2 linked regions of the Homo sapiens genome follow. The protein of the gene in region 1 interacts with the protein of each later gene in a pairwise test. Each region holds a gene or a part of one and is shown in the gene's direction. Other genes may lie near its edges.

What was found. The genes of interacting proteins can lie anywhere in the genome.
Region 2: the proteins of ZDHHC23 (region 1) and GLIS1 interact in binary tests that used the Homo sapiens proteins (3 or more experiments, as listed by UniProt).

What each region holds. Positions count from the first base shown.
Region 1 is NC_000003.12:113,943,254-113,951,040, forward strand, and holds the start of ZDHHC23 (palmitoyltransferase ZDHHC23), read left to right. Parts: upstream 1-4,759; 5' UTR 4,760-4,937; intron 4,938-5,135; exon of another isoform or gene 5,136-5,432; 5' UTR 5,433-5,549; coding exon 5,550-5,710; intron 5,711-7,787. Other genes in the region: GRAMD1C (protein Aster-C), read left to right, coding at 2,145-2,225. UniProt on the Homo sapiens protein: Palmitoyltransferase that could catalyze the addition of palmitate onto various protein substrates and be involved in a variety of cellular processes.
Region 2 is NC_000001.11:53,729,135-53,736,164, reverse strand, and holds part of GLIS1 (zinc finger protein GLIS1), read left to right. Parts: intron 1-1,961; exon of another isoform or gene 1,962-2,261; intron 2,262-7,030. UniProt on the Homo sapiens protein: Acts both as a repressor and an activator of transcription. Binds to the consensus sequence 5'-GACCACCCAC-3'. By controlling the expression of genes involved in cell differentiation inhibits the lineage commitment of multipotent cells.

The sequences.
Region 1 (7,787 bases):
ACAGAGCTAAACACTTCTTTCTTGAAATGTATCTAATGTATCTAATCTTGCTTTCTTTAAAACCATAAAAAAATCTTTTTGTGATGTAATTTACATACAATAAAAGTTTTTATTCACAAGGTTGTGCAACCATCATCACTATCTAATTCCAGAGCATTTTCATAACCCCACAAGAAAATCTGTACACATTAGTAGTTAATTCCCATCCCTCACTCCCCCTGACCCCTGGCACCCACTAATCTAATTTCCATTACTATGGGTGTGCCTATTCTGGACATGTTATATACATGGAATAATACAATACGTGGTCTTTTGAGATTGGCTTCTTTCACTTAGAAAAATGTAAAACTAATTTTTGCTAGTTAAAAACATCTCCTTGGCTGGGCACAGTGGCTCACACCTGTAATCCTAGCACTTTGGGAGGCCAAGGCAGGCAGATTGCCTGAGCTCAGAAGTTTGAGACCAGCCTGGGCAACTTGGCGAAACCCCGTCTCTACTAAAATACAAAAAATTAGCCAGGGGTGGTAGCAGGCGCCTGTAGTCCCAGCTACTCGGGAGGCTGAGGCAGGAGAATTGTTTGAACCCAGGAGGCGGAGGTTGCAGTGAGCTGAGATCATGCTACTGCACTCCAGCCTGGGTGAAAGAGCGAGACTCCGTCTCCAAAAAATAAAAATAAATAAAAAATAAAAATATCTCCTCTGCCTGACTTCCTCCTGGCCCAAATGCTCCAGGGCTCTGTGTTAGATTCTCTTTCCTTCTCTATTACTCTCCCTTTAGGTGATCTTATTCACACCCCTAACTTTAAATAACCACACGTTCCAATGACTCCTGTCTTAGTCCATTTGTGCTACTATAACAAAATCCTGGAGACTGGGTAATTTATAAAGAACAGAAATTTATTGCTCACAGTTCTGAGGCTGAGGAGTCCAAGATTAAGGTTCTGGCATGTTTGGTGTCCACCTGGCAGAAGGGACTGAAGGACAAAAAAGGGGACTATTTAGTTCCCTGAAGCTCTTTTATAAGAGCACTAATCCATTCATAGGAGCCGTCATGACCTAATCACCTCCCAGAGGCCACGTCTCTTCATGCTGTTGCATTGGGGATTCAGTTTGAACGTGAATTTTGAAGGGGACACAAATGTTCAGATAGCAGCAACTCCCAAGTCCGTATCTCTCACCTCGACCTGAGCTCTAGACTCATACAGTCACTTGCCTACTTGGCATCTTCACCTGGATGACTAACAGGATTCCCAAACTGATTATGTCCAAAACAGAAGTCAATTTTCCTCTAATCCAAAACCTAATTCTCTAGTGGGTCTCATTTCAGAAAATGATGCTACCATCCACCAGCTGCTCAAGTCAAAAACTTAATAAAATATCTAAGTATATATTTATGTATGTGATTATTTGTTTTATTAATAGTTCTGGATCCCTGACTAGTCTGTAAGCTCCATGAAGGACAGGACAGTGCCTATTTGGTTCTCCATTGTATATCCAGTGCTTAGAACACTGCCCAACATGTGATAGGCAAGCAACAAATATTTGTTGAATGAATACAAAAAAAGAGTAAGACATAATTCCTGCTCTTGAGTTGCACACAATTTTCTTAGAGAAATGAGATGTCCAGGTGTATTGTTAATGACAAAGATTACAAAATTCAGTGTCAAAGTGTTAAGTAGTAAGGATAATGCTTTGGGAGTTTATAGGCAGAATGACTGGGGAAAACTACATGAAGAGTGTGAATATGAGTAAGTTTTAGGTGAAGAACATGAGGATGAGAGCATGCAAAGGCACTGAAGCAAACTTGAGTTGTTTAGGGGATAGTGAGGAGACCACTGCAACTTCAGAAATCTTTTAGGAAAACGAGTCTGTCACTACGCTTAATTTGATTAATGGACCTATTGGGAGGTAGACTATGTAGCAGTAGGAAGAAGTACAATACTCCAGCAAATGGGAAGAACTCTGTAGCAATCATACTGATAGATACCCCAAAGAATCAGGTATTTTGTATTTAACGTTTTATTTGGGCATCAGTATAAACAAAACTATATTAAGTGTCACTGTAAATTTTGGGCATAAAAAACAGAAATTTTCAAATCTGATTAGAAAAATTAATCTGATTTTGAAAATTAACTTTGTTTACAGCTGAAGAGCTCACTCATTATGCTTCAGAAAACGTTTGATCTACTAAATAAGAATAAGACTGGCATGGCTGTTGAAAGCTAGTGATCTGAAGGACTAAAACCGCAGAGATACTTGGAACTTAAAGAAAATACCTGGAAGAAAACCAGACGAATGAAGGATTTTGGCATAGAACATTTCTATGTTTTTTCATTATTGAGATTTCTAATATGAACATTTCTTTCAGTAACATTTATTTGATAATTAGTTTCTGCTGGCCTTAATAATCCATCCTTTCACTTCTTATAGATATTTTTAAGCTGTGAATTTCTTCAGTGAACCATGAAATATATTATAGAACTGAATTTCTCTGATACAAAAAGAAAATGACACACCCTGAATTGAGTGGTATGGTCTCATTTCTACAGTGAAGTCTGATGCTTTGTTAGCACAGAATCCGTACATGTCCAATAGGTCGCTTTTGTAACTGAGATAAGACCAAGAGGATAAACAGGACAATATAAGAAGAAACCTCTATGTCATTACTGATTTTAAAGGTTCTGTTTTCAGGCATATAACATTTCCAGGTTTGTGTACTGTAAAGATTATAATGTCTTCATTTATTTAGCATGCAAATTTAATAGTCAAACTTTTTGAATCTGCATGTTGATGATGATTATCAGAAAGGGTCTTCTGCCATGCTGTATCTTTATGAAAGAAATAGTTGTTTTTTCTTAAGGTAACTATCAGAGGTGGGATTATCTTGCCTCCTCACTTAGAATACCAACAGTCAAAAGGAAGAACCATCCTCTGAGTTTTAAAAACCAGAAGGTTATGTTAAAATCTGGGCATTTAGTGACAGATCAAATGCATACTTGAACTAAGATTGGCTTCAGCTTAGCAGTCTTTCATGGTGGAAGTGACACATCTGGTTGAAAATAATTTGTGTATTTTCAGTAACCATGTATGGCTTCCTTCTTTATGTATGTGTGTGACTTGTTTTGATTGGTAAGTTATAAGCCAGACATAGATTTTAGCTCTTTAATAAAAACTTCAGGGGCACGTATGTCCCAGTACAAGTGTACTGACTATCAAGTTTTAACTCAGATGCAAGCTTTGGCTCTTTCATAAAAAGTTTTTATGCATATGTGTCTCCATACAAGTGGCTCATTAAAATAAGAACTTTGTAAACTGACTTAAAATCAGATATTTTTTCAAGAGTTAGGGAAAGTTGAAGTGTTTTACTGTTTTGTCTCTTGAGCCCTTTCTCTGGGGAAAAAATACATATCCATCTATCTATCTATATATAAACTGTGTATACATTCTTACTGTTTGAACAACTATTGCCTTTAATTAAATGTTTCATTTTTCTCCAGAGTCCCCAAAGCCACATGGCATTATTATAGTCATTTTTGAGATGCCTGTAGAGAATGAAAGTATTGACTCCGTTAGAGGGAAAATGGGTTTCTCTGGGTGAATTCCAACGAAGCATACCTAGGGGTAACAGTGAACCTACCTGGGTTTGTTTTGTTTTGGTAAGGATTTATGTAGTGTCTGGCTGTAAGCAAGAATGAGTGGATTATAAACTTGAAGATTTCTCTGTTAAAGTCACAAAAATGATCGACAAACAATATTTTTGTGATGTTTATTTAAACGTTGTATTTTATAACATACTTCAAGGAAGAGTATCGAAGTAAGTTGCTTTATAAATTAAGACTAAATTCGTATGGATGCAGAATTCAATTAATAAAATTTGAGCCTGTTACGTAAATTGAATATTAATAAAATTGAAAATTTCTGAGTTGTAGTTTTTCTTCTTTTTCTACTTAAAAACAAAACTAGAAAGCCTGCGGTAGTGAAACGTGTACATGGGCCCACACTCTTTAAAGAAATTTTGTGCAATAATAAAACCCAAAAAGGACTCTCATCTCAGGGCAGTTTCATCTCAAATACACAGACGACTGGAACAAAAGTACTAGCGAGGCCTGCTGGTCCAATGTAAAGGCTGCTAGCCAGAAATCATGAAACGAACAGGTTGCTAAATGAACAGATCCGGCAGCAGTGATGGGCCTTTAAGAGAAGGTCAGCGAAACTGGGGGAGGTACTTGGATAACATTTTGCGGTGGAAAGCTCCCTCACCGCCTGTTGCCGGAGTCTGAATGAAGGCTGGCGGCTCCACGGTCTCACGTAGTTCGGAAATCCTCCGGGTTCCCGGGTTTCCCGTATTTCCGTCTCCGCACCTCGTCCGCACCCCGGGGCTCCGGAGGCTGTCCCACCGGCGCGCCGCCCGCAGGCACCGGCGGCGCCCGGCTGCCGCCTCTGGGGCGGGGCGGGGCGTGGCGTGGCGGGGCAGGCCGGAGGTGCGGGACCCACCTCCTGCCCCTGCCTCCTGGACGCGCTCTCGGGAGCCGATTTTCCCCTTCCCGGCGCCAGGGCCGCGGGCCAGGAGGAGGAGCCTCGCCCGCGGGCACCGCGGGGAGGCGGGCGGCGCACGTGCGGACAGGCGGGGAACCCCGGCGCCGGGGGCGGGGCACCCGGAAGCGCGCGTGGACCTGGCGCACCGAGCCGGGCGGGCGGAGGGGCGGTTGGGACGGCGCGGGGAGGCGGGCGCGCCGCCCGGGCCGCGGCGGGCTGTGGTCACAGGTGGGCGGCTGCGGCGAGGGAGCGGCCGAGCGGAGCCCGGGTCCCGGAGACTCCTGCCGTCACGCCCGGGGCTCCGCGTAGCAGAGATCGGGAGACGCGTCTGTGCCTCCGGGGAAGCCGACCCATCTCCCCTCCGCCTCTTTGGCTGCAGTTGCACCTCCGGCCAGAGGGCAGGTAACTTCCCTTCCAAGGTCATTCTCCTGGCGGGGTGGTGCGCGAGGCCCGCCCACGTCCTCCGGATTGGCGGGGGCGGGAGAGGCGCACCCTGCAAGGGGCCCGACCAGTTGGGCTGGACCGCGACCCCTGAGCACTGCCAGGGAGCCTGGTGTGTCAGCCGCTGCTAGCGGGCATATGCTTCGCCTTTCCCTATAGCCCCGAGGCTGAGTTCCCACCAGCGCCCAGGCTTGGAGCGGAGACCGCTCGGCCCTCCCAGCCTGCACCCGCAGGTGAGCGCAACCGCCCGCGCCCCGGCTGTCCCGGACGCGTGGTCGGCTGTCGCCATAGGAACGGCTGGTGCCCAGACGGCGCCTGCCCAGGCTGGGAAGGGGCGGTGAAGGCAGCTCAGACCTCCAAGAACCCTGGAGCCCCCTGTGTGGCCAGGCGGAGCCACAGAAGCCTGATGAAAACGGGACCCCCTCCCCCTCTCTCTTCTCATTTTTGATTGCTCAGGCGTTGGAGGTTAAGCAGAGAGAGAGAGGCGTGGACCTATTTACGAGATGTAAGTTGTGTTCTTTCCACCTTTACCTTCTGAGGGCTTCTTACGCCTCATGGTGACAGGTGCAAATCATGACACAGAAGGGCAGTATGAAGCCTGTGAAGAAAAAGAAAACCGAAGAACCTGAATTGGAGCCCCTGTGCTGCTGCGAGTACATAGATCGGAATGGGGAAAAGAACCACGTGGCTACTTGTTTGTGTGATTGTCAAGATCTGGATGAAGGGTGTGATCGGTAAGAACAGAGCATTTCTTGACGCTGGCCCCATCACCCTTCTGAGAACTGCCATGTGTACTTTCAACCTAGCCACCCAGAATGCTAGAATTTGCTCTTGATTCTATTTCCAAGCATCTAAAATGAGAGTTGGCTTCTGTGTCAAGTGTGAGGATTTTAGAAAGATGGATTACGCAGTAGTGCACAGCTGTCTGTCTGCTCTGTTTTATAGGATATTATTTTTCGTTTAAAGAGAGATGAGGGAGAGAACAGGCAGTTTAAAGGGATAGTAGGCAAGTTAGTATAAAATAAAATGCAAGCCAGCAGAATCTGTAAGTTTAAAATGAACACAATAGTTCCAGAAAGTTCCTGCCTTCTCAGAGGTCTCAGCATTTAGAGACTGACTACTTGGGACTGGGTGGCACCTGACCACAGAGGGCCTTGTGGGTTGAAATTTCATTTTCCTGCTGTTAGTACTGGTCTTGCCCCTTGTTTCTGGGGAGGAACTCCAGCCAGAAGGCATGTATCTCCCCTGGATTCACAGTTTTCAGTGCGACCAGCAACACTCTTGATTGATCATACTGTATTTGGCTTTTATTTTCCAAGTGATGGAAATTACTATCCAAAAAGAGAATTTTTAACATCACTGAAAAAATTTGGTGTCGGACAGTGAATAATCTGGTTTTAATCCATTTTCTGAGTAATTATATATTTAAAAATCACTGTCAATGGAAGTCATAATGTGGGAAGGATAGGGATGTTGGAAACTTGCTTTTCCCATTAATAATTATTTCTGGTTAAAAAAGTCATTGCAACTGCCAATTTGTTGACTTAGAACTTGATACATTAATACAGCCATGAAAAGCATTCCCTGGGGTCTGCAGTCTAGTACCAGCCTTGACTATTAAAAACCCAGTGAACCCTTTGTCGTTCTTACTTGACAGTGTACTGTGTAGTCTTTTTTATGGATGTCTTTGAATATAGGTTCTTTAGATTTAGTCTGAAATCTATACTGAGAAAATAGAGCACTTTGCACTAATGAATGGAGAAATGATGCTGTTTCCATAACCACCATCACTCAAGACCGCAGCTCTTCCATTAACCTTGCTAACTCTTCCTCCCTCCTAGCCCTGGAGACCTTGGCTGTCCCCTGAGGCATCTCCTCTGCTCTCTCTGTACCCCTCTCCTCTGTGTTTCCACCGTGCCTGCTGCTCTGTATGATTCCCAATTAGTTATCTCTAAGTTCTAGTCTTACCTTTAAAAATTGTCTAAAATCAAAGTTACCTTTCCTTAAACTCTACCTTTTCTTACTAGCCTGTCTTAATTTGTTCAGGCTGCTATGATAAAATAAATACCTGAGACTGGGTAATTTGTAAACAATATACATCTATTGCTCACAGTTCTAGAGGCTCAGAAATCCAAGATCAAGGCACTGGCAGATTCAGTGTCTGGTGAGGGCCCTTTTCCTCATAGATGACACCTTCTTGGTGTGTCATGACATGGCAGAAGGGGTGAATAAGCTCATAGGGCTCTATTATAAGGGCACAAGTCTCATTCATGAGGGCTGTGCCTTCATGACCTAATCACCTCCTTAAGGTCTCACCTCTGAATACTATTGCATTGGGAATGAGGTTTCAACATAATGAACTTTGGAGGGACACAGATACTTCCTGGCTCCCTAAAATTTATGTCCTTCTCACATGCAAAATACACTGATTTCATCCTAATAGCCCCAAAAGTCTTAGCTCATCCCAGTGTCAATTCAGAAGTCTAAGTCCAGAGTCTGGTCTGAATATCATCATCCAAATCAGATATGGATGAGTTTCAAGATACGATTCATCCTGAGACAAGTTCTCCTCCACATGTGAGCCTGTGAAATCAAACAAGTTAGGTGCTTCCACAATACGATGGTAGGACATGCATAGAATAGACATTCCCATTCCAAAAGGGAACAACAGGAAGAAAGGAGTGTTACTGACAGGTCCTAACCCAGTGGGGCAAACAATGTTAAGCCTTAATAAGGCTTGAGAATAATCTTGGACTTGATGTCCTGCCTTCTGGACACACTGGGTTGGCGGTTGGGCCCCCAAGGCTCTGG
Region 2 (7,030 bases), on another chromosome or scaffold:
TCTTTGTACCTTAAGCTGGTCTCTCTGGTGAAGCTTTTTTCCAAGAGGTTTCACAACTTTTCTTCATAGCCTCCCAGTGAGGCTGTTGTGGTGGGATGTATCCCACTCATTTGAAGGGTGAGGAAACTGAGGCCTGAAGGTGGGAAAGTGTTTGGTATGTGTAGGGCAGTGGTTAGGGAAGCCACAGCTCTGGCCTAACCTGGCCTAGGGAGAAAGGGAAGGCTCAGGGTCCTGGGCTTGGAGAGGTTTCCCTGCTGGCCTCTGTGTTGCTATAGGCAAGCTTTTCCTCACAGTGCAGTCACCAAGTGGCCCGAGACAAACCCAGCTTTCCCCCAGTTCTTCAGCGTCCTTAAAAATGCTGCGAGGAAACGGCACCTTCTTACTGCCCCTACTCCCACCGAAATAGTCCCAGACCATGTAACCCTTTGAATATTTGGTGTCTAGCTCCAAGTTCTCAGGCTTATTGGAAACAGACAGAAATACCAATTGAAAAATATGTATTGACTGTGCTGGGAATTGTGAGACCCCACCATCTATGATCTGTGGCACTTGGGGGAATCGATTTTACTCTTCTGAGCCTTTGGTTCCTTCGTTTGTAAATTTACCCTGAGACTTAATTCGCAAGACTGATGAGATCATTAGTGATAAAGAATGTGCAAGGGCCACCTCAGTGCCTGGTTATTTTTAGGATTACTACTGTAACCTGTTTCACATTCTCAACCTCTGGGTTTTCATTTGCGTGAGAGGTAATGGTGCCTACCTTGCAGGGTAAATAAAACAAGAGTTGTAAGAATGCCTTATAAGCTAAAAAGGTAGAAGGAGGCACTTTTATTAATTCGTGCAGGGCCCATGCAAGGGTCAGTGACACTTGAGATAAAGGGGACAGAGTGAGAAGGAAGCAAGGTTACATTTTTAAAATGCTGAATGTGAAGGGTGCTAACTGTGGTGTGCTAGCCAGGGGAGGCTGAGAGGTGCCAAGCTTCAGGTCTTTTGTGGCCACAGCTGCCCAGTGACCGGAGAGAAGACAGTATGGCTCAGCCTGGGGTCAGGTTTCAGATGCTCTGCCGCCTGCCTCAGACAGTCCCTAAGCAGAGGAAGAGAGTGGGTTCTTGAACCTAGTAGTTTATCCATAAATGTCTGGGGCCTGTGTATTTGATCTGGAATCGGGAGGCACTGGGATGGTGTGATGTCATGGACTAACATTGTCATCATTTACAATAAGAATCATGATCTGTTTATGGCAGAGTCCCGTTTATCCAGATTCCAAACAGCTGGAAAAGCCAAATTGCCAGATGCTGCATTTTTCTTTCCTATTATTAAACACCCGACACTCTGCTTTTATAAGTCCTGACAAGGAAAGAAGGTAAACATCTGGGCTTTATGCAGGCGGACAGCTTTGTGGTGATGGCCTGATGACGCTTGTTCTCTGTGCACGGTGCTTTACAGTGTTCAGAGCGTGTTCCCACACATCCTCTTGTCTGCCCTCACGCCAGCTGGGCTCTGCCTGCCTTGGGGGCTCTTGTGAGGGAGCAGATGTAGAAGTCTGTAAAGTGCTGGGCAGATACTGGCTGTTATTAATGTGATTCCCATTTTATAGATGCAGACATTAAGGTTCAGGGATTTGCTCAAAGCTGCAGACAGTAGGTGGCAGTTTCCAGGCTTCCAGCTGCAAATATTTGATTCTGGTTCCACAACTTGTACCTTCTACATGTGTGTGTTGGCGGCCGAGAGCTGGCATTCACACGAAGGCCTTCTGAACGTTCCCAGAGAATTTAAAAATGTCTTTTGCTTTTGGTATTTCTACTGTCTCACATCTTTGGGAATTGGTAACTAGTATCTATGCCATAGTTAGAAAACTTTATAGTTTACCACATGATTCCATTTGTCCAGAGTTGCTGTTCCCACACCAAACCAGATAATGAGGTCACTATTTAATTTACAGTGACTCACTGGGCCCTTTCACTGTGTACTGAGACTGGATGCATCCTTGCAATAAAAAAGAGGTTGATCACGACAAATGTGAACCCCGCCGTTATAAAAACAGCCATCATGGCTGTAAATGCCAAAAAGCAGTCAGTCTTGTAACTTGAAAAAAAAAAAAAAGGAATTGTAGATTGTGCGCATGGACTCGGAGTGGGGGCGGTGGACAGTAAGTCATGATGTTTTGGTGGTACCACCTGGTTGAATTTCTTCATCTGAATAAGAAGCTCCTGTGATGTTCTGGGGAGGCCTTGGAAGGCTAGCGCATCCCTCATAGAAAGGTATGAGTGACTTTTAAAGCATTTCTCCCCTCCGGCTCCGGTGGGCAATTTGCTTGCATTTCATCCATTTTAAAGTGCTGGTCCTGCGATCCGGAAATAATCAGATCCAAATTTTTTCAGTGCATGAAGTTTCAAATAAGGGGGAGAAAAACCTGCTGGCCAAATGTCAGGCTCAGTGAGACAAAGAGAAACAAGTATGTGTGTGGGTAAAAAATGAGATAGGAACATGTTGCGTCTACAGTCATAAGAGTTATGTATCCGACAAATCTTTTATAGACATGTAGCGGAAATATAATTCCCAAAGATTCCCTAAGAATCTCGGGCGGCTAGAATTCCTCTTCCCTTCCTGCCTCTCAAGCTTTCTAGAAGCTAGGACTCTGTGGGCAAAATGGCAAGGGGACCATCACGTGAGATCGTAATTTAATTTAGGCTTAGTTGTTTCTGAGTAGTTTACCTGTAGCGTGCTTAGCTGGACTGAGGTCTGCAGAGCTTCAGAGCTGTGGAATCACATCGATAGTCTATGTTGCTCCATCTGTGATTTAAAAATGTAAATTTCTTTATATGCTATGATTTTTCTTCATCCTTCTTTTTCTGAAAAACAAAAAACAAAAAACAAAATGAACCTCATCTCAGAGTTACTCATCTCCCTGCGTTTCATTTGCGTGAGAAGCTTAGTGAGCCAGCACACTTATTTTTACAGTGCGTTAAAATCCCATTACAGGCATAAGTGCACAATGAATCACTTAAAAAAATATATTCTTATGTTCTTTGTTCTGAATGTTGCATAATTATCATCATTTTCTTCGGTTTTACTTTGTGGAGTTTGGCCAGTATCCTGGAAGAGGGGAGAAACTAAAGTTTGGGACAGGGTTTTCAATCTGTTTTGGATAGGATTAGGGGAAAAAATAACAAACAAATAAACTTTATTGGGAAGTCGACCAGTGACTATCGCTGAGGATAATTTCCCTTCCTTCTCTCAATTGTCTTGGAAAAGAATTCTGTTTTCAACACGATGTGGTAGTATTTCAGCAACCTCACCTTACATATACGGTTATATTCAAAGTTAAATTATAATGTGTGGTTTGTTATTTTTTTTTTTTTAATATAGATTTCCGTTGCAATTATTTTGGACCTAGAGAATTGTGTGGTTTCTTTTGGTGGGGGGTAGTTTATTTTTATATTTAAAGAAACAAAGACATTCAGTTCAAGGGGGAGAAGAAATGAAACAAAGTTTGCAGTGGGCTTTGAAAACTTGGACTGCATTATGCAAAAAGCACAGCTGTAATACCAGGGCCAGGAAAAAAGACCAAACTCCTGAAATATTTGTGCTGCTCGCCTTCACTGTGCTAATGATTCTAGCAGTTTAAAAACGGACTTCTTGTTTATCAGCAGCCACTGCCCAAATTAATAGTTTACAATGAAAAAAAAAAAAAAGCTTTCAGCATTGGAAGCAAAGTCCAGGGACTGACAGCTGAGTTACTGAGTAAGGAAAGCAGAAAAGAGGGGGAAAAGTAGTTTTGTGGCTACTTTGGTCTCCCAAAGCCATATTTATAAGAAACTGAAAGAAAGCCGAAGGCTGGGCTGGGTAGGGGTGGAGAGAATACAACCCTAACCCAGTGGTCTCAGAGTTGAAAGTCACTTAAAGCATGTTTTCTTCTTTTGCCCTTTTTCCCCCTTAAACTCCAAAGGATTATTCCTTCAGTAGGTTTCCGGTGGATCGAGGCGGATCGTGTTAGCATTACGAGCTGTGTTTTTAAAGTTAGCATTTGAGTCAGATGCGCTGAGAAGAGACCTTTAGTCTGTTAACTGAATAACGCATTTCCTGGATGGCCTGAATTTATTTGGTGGTTATGGTTGGGCCTGCCTGGAGCTAACACATGAGCCATTGTGTAGCATCTTTGCAAGTGGGCCGTGCCCTGTGCTTTGAGCCTTGGTTTTCCCATCTGTAAAATGGAGAGCAGTTCAGTTGGATGATCCATAGTCCCTGCCTGCTGATACTCCAGGATTCCACACTGACTGGGCTGGGAAGGTTTGGAAGGATCTGGGGTGTAGGAAGAGGCCACTTTTGTCTCAGACCAGGTTATACACTGGAACTCTTGACTGCTAAAGATGAACACAGAAAGAATGGGGAAGAGGGAGGTCAACTAACCTTTAGTGAGCGGCTGTTCTGTGCCAGGTGAGATGCTTTAGAGACGTGATCACATTTAATTATGCCCAGCAGCCCTAGGAAGAAAGGAGGCACTGTTCTAATTTTAAAGATGGGGGGACTGAGGCTTGGAAAGGCAAAGTGATTTGTCCAAGGTTGTGCATGTAGTAAGCAACAGAGCCTGGAATTTGAACCCAGGTCTGTCTGACAGCAGAGCCAGTACTTTCCTCTGAAAATACACCACTCTCCAGGACCAGCTTCTTAAACCCAGGCGGCTGGGAAGGAGAGGATGCGGCTCTAGAGAGCTGCGCGCCCCCAAGGAAGCCCAAAGGAAGGCAGCAGGAGGCTGCAGGGGGCCCAGACAGCCACATCCCAGAGCACCCCTTTCTCAGTCTCAGCCAACAGGCTGAGGTGCGACTTACAGGGGATACTCTGCCTCCGTAGGGCACTGCTCCTCTCCCCCTGCAGAACTAGGGAAAGGAGAATGTTCCCAGTGACTCAGGATCCTCAGGAATCTGGGGTCTGGAAAAAGACTCTCTGAGGCCATGGAGGGGGCCCCTAGGAGGGACCGCTTCTCAGAAGCAGTGGCAACTCCCGTCCTGACTGGTTATTGCAGGTAGTAGTCCCTGTCTGAGTCTTTCTTGCCATATGGGGAGATTCCTTGCCAAGGCCCCGGTCGTAGTCTCCCCTCTATGGCTTTCAAAGACATCTGTTGGACGAGAATTCCTCAAGATCCCCACCATGCCTGGTTATAGAATACGTGCTTCCCCAAGCATGTTGGCTCAGGGATCTATTAAACAATTATTTCTTGTTAAACACTTGGTGGGATGAAGTAGGGCTTGGGAGGGAGAACAGGCTGGGGATCAGAGTGAACTTGAGAGTTTGCTTGTGAGAAATGGGTCTTTTGTGTCAAATGATGAATGAGCTAGATGACCCCCCCTATGGAAGGTAAAGGTCCCACGGCTGGTTGCATCTGTGGCCTTGCACGTGCATTCATGAGAATGTGTACATTCTCAGGGAGTCATACTGATTCTGAAGATGGACTTGCAGGAGCCGTTCTGGTCCGAGGTGTTTTTGCCTTCCTACGTGCCGCTGTGTCTGAAGGGGAGTGAATGAAGTACAAGGGATGGCCCTGCCTGCCGTACAGCCCAGCCTGTTCCTATTTGTGTCTTTTTAGCAACCAGATTACTCTTTTAGATGTTACCTTTGTTTTTAAATAACAGGTTTGCTAGAAATCAGGCTTTAGCAAGAAACCAGGGAGTACTATAAACCTGACTTGAAAAATACAGATCCCATTTGCTGTTTTAAGCTCTCCGGAGGACTGGAGATTGGGTTTATTTTGGAACGCTGCTGGACTATATGAATTACTTCTCAGAGGGTTGGGTATTTAATACCTAGTAGAAGTTTGTGTAAGAGTTGATGATGTATTTTGCCAACTTTCCAACCCTGTAAATAAATTACACGTGCCGGCAGAGGTTGCCAGGATCCACTGTGTCAGTTGGAGCTTAATTTTTATCCTAAACCACCGAATACTTTTGTCCTAGCAAGCAGAGAAAGTTACGGAGTTTTTTGCTTGTCACTGGGCCCATCCCAAGACGACGGTTTAAAGAGCCTGAGAATAGGCCTCCGCGGAGTCACTGATTTTGACACCGTTTTCGGTGGTTAAGTAGCTTCAGCAGTCTCAAGTCCAACCCTCAAGGCAGAGAATGATAATATAATTTTAAGCATATCGTAAAAATGAAACTCAATCACTTCCACTCCCCAAACCTGTCTCACTCCCCATCTCTCTGGAGAAAACGGCTGTAATTGTGTGTTTAATCTCAAGACTGCCTTTGCATTTTATCTTATTTGAGTGCAAAGCCCAGGTAATATCGTGGCATTTCCAGCGCGAAACAAAATAGGGTTTCTAATTTGGAGACACTATTAAATATTTCATGCTTCAACCAAACTCAATTCTTTTTTCCTATAATAAGTTTAAATATTAATTCTCTGGAATGTCAGATGCCTAAAGCAAAGCATTTAGTGATCTGCAGTTTCAAGTATCTCGAAGAAGGTTTATGAAACAGGATATTTCACTGGGAGGGATGAGTAGTGTGCTTCAGAGATATGTGAATTCAAGGCATCGTCTTCTGATTTATTTTTTAAAGGGAAAAGGTCATAAAATAAGTTGCTTTATGTGCTGATGGATTAAGTGGCTTAGGCTGAAATAACAGCAGGAACTTTACTATTTTTCCCTGTTTTAACAATGCTTTTTGGGGGAGGGGGGTGGGTCTTTTTCCCGCCTGCTTGTCTCCTCCCTCCGTACCCCCCGTCAACCCCAGCCAGATGGCTTTAATTCTAACCAAATCCCACGCTGAGGCCAAATGATTGATCAAACAGTCATTTGTACTTACGGAGCGCTCTTTGTGAGAATATCTCTGTGCTAGGGCTTCTCGTTGAGGCAGGCTCTTCTTTGGGCCTTCAAACGGATGATTTCAAACAGATCGAGCGGCTTGGTGAGGAGGGGTCCGCGGGTGGATGCGGAGCAAAAATCCCAGACCTCAAGTCCGTAGAACTTCTCGCTTAAAACCTCTGTGTTACTTCCCATCCCTGACAGCAGGGGTATCCAAATGTTCTAAGTATA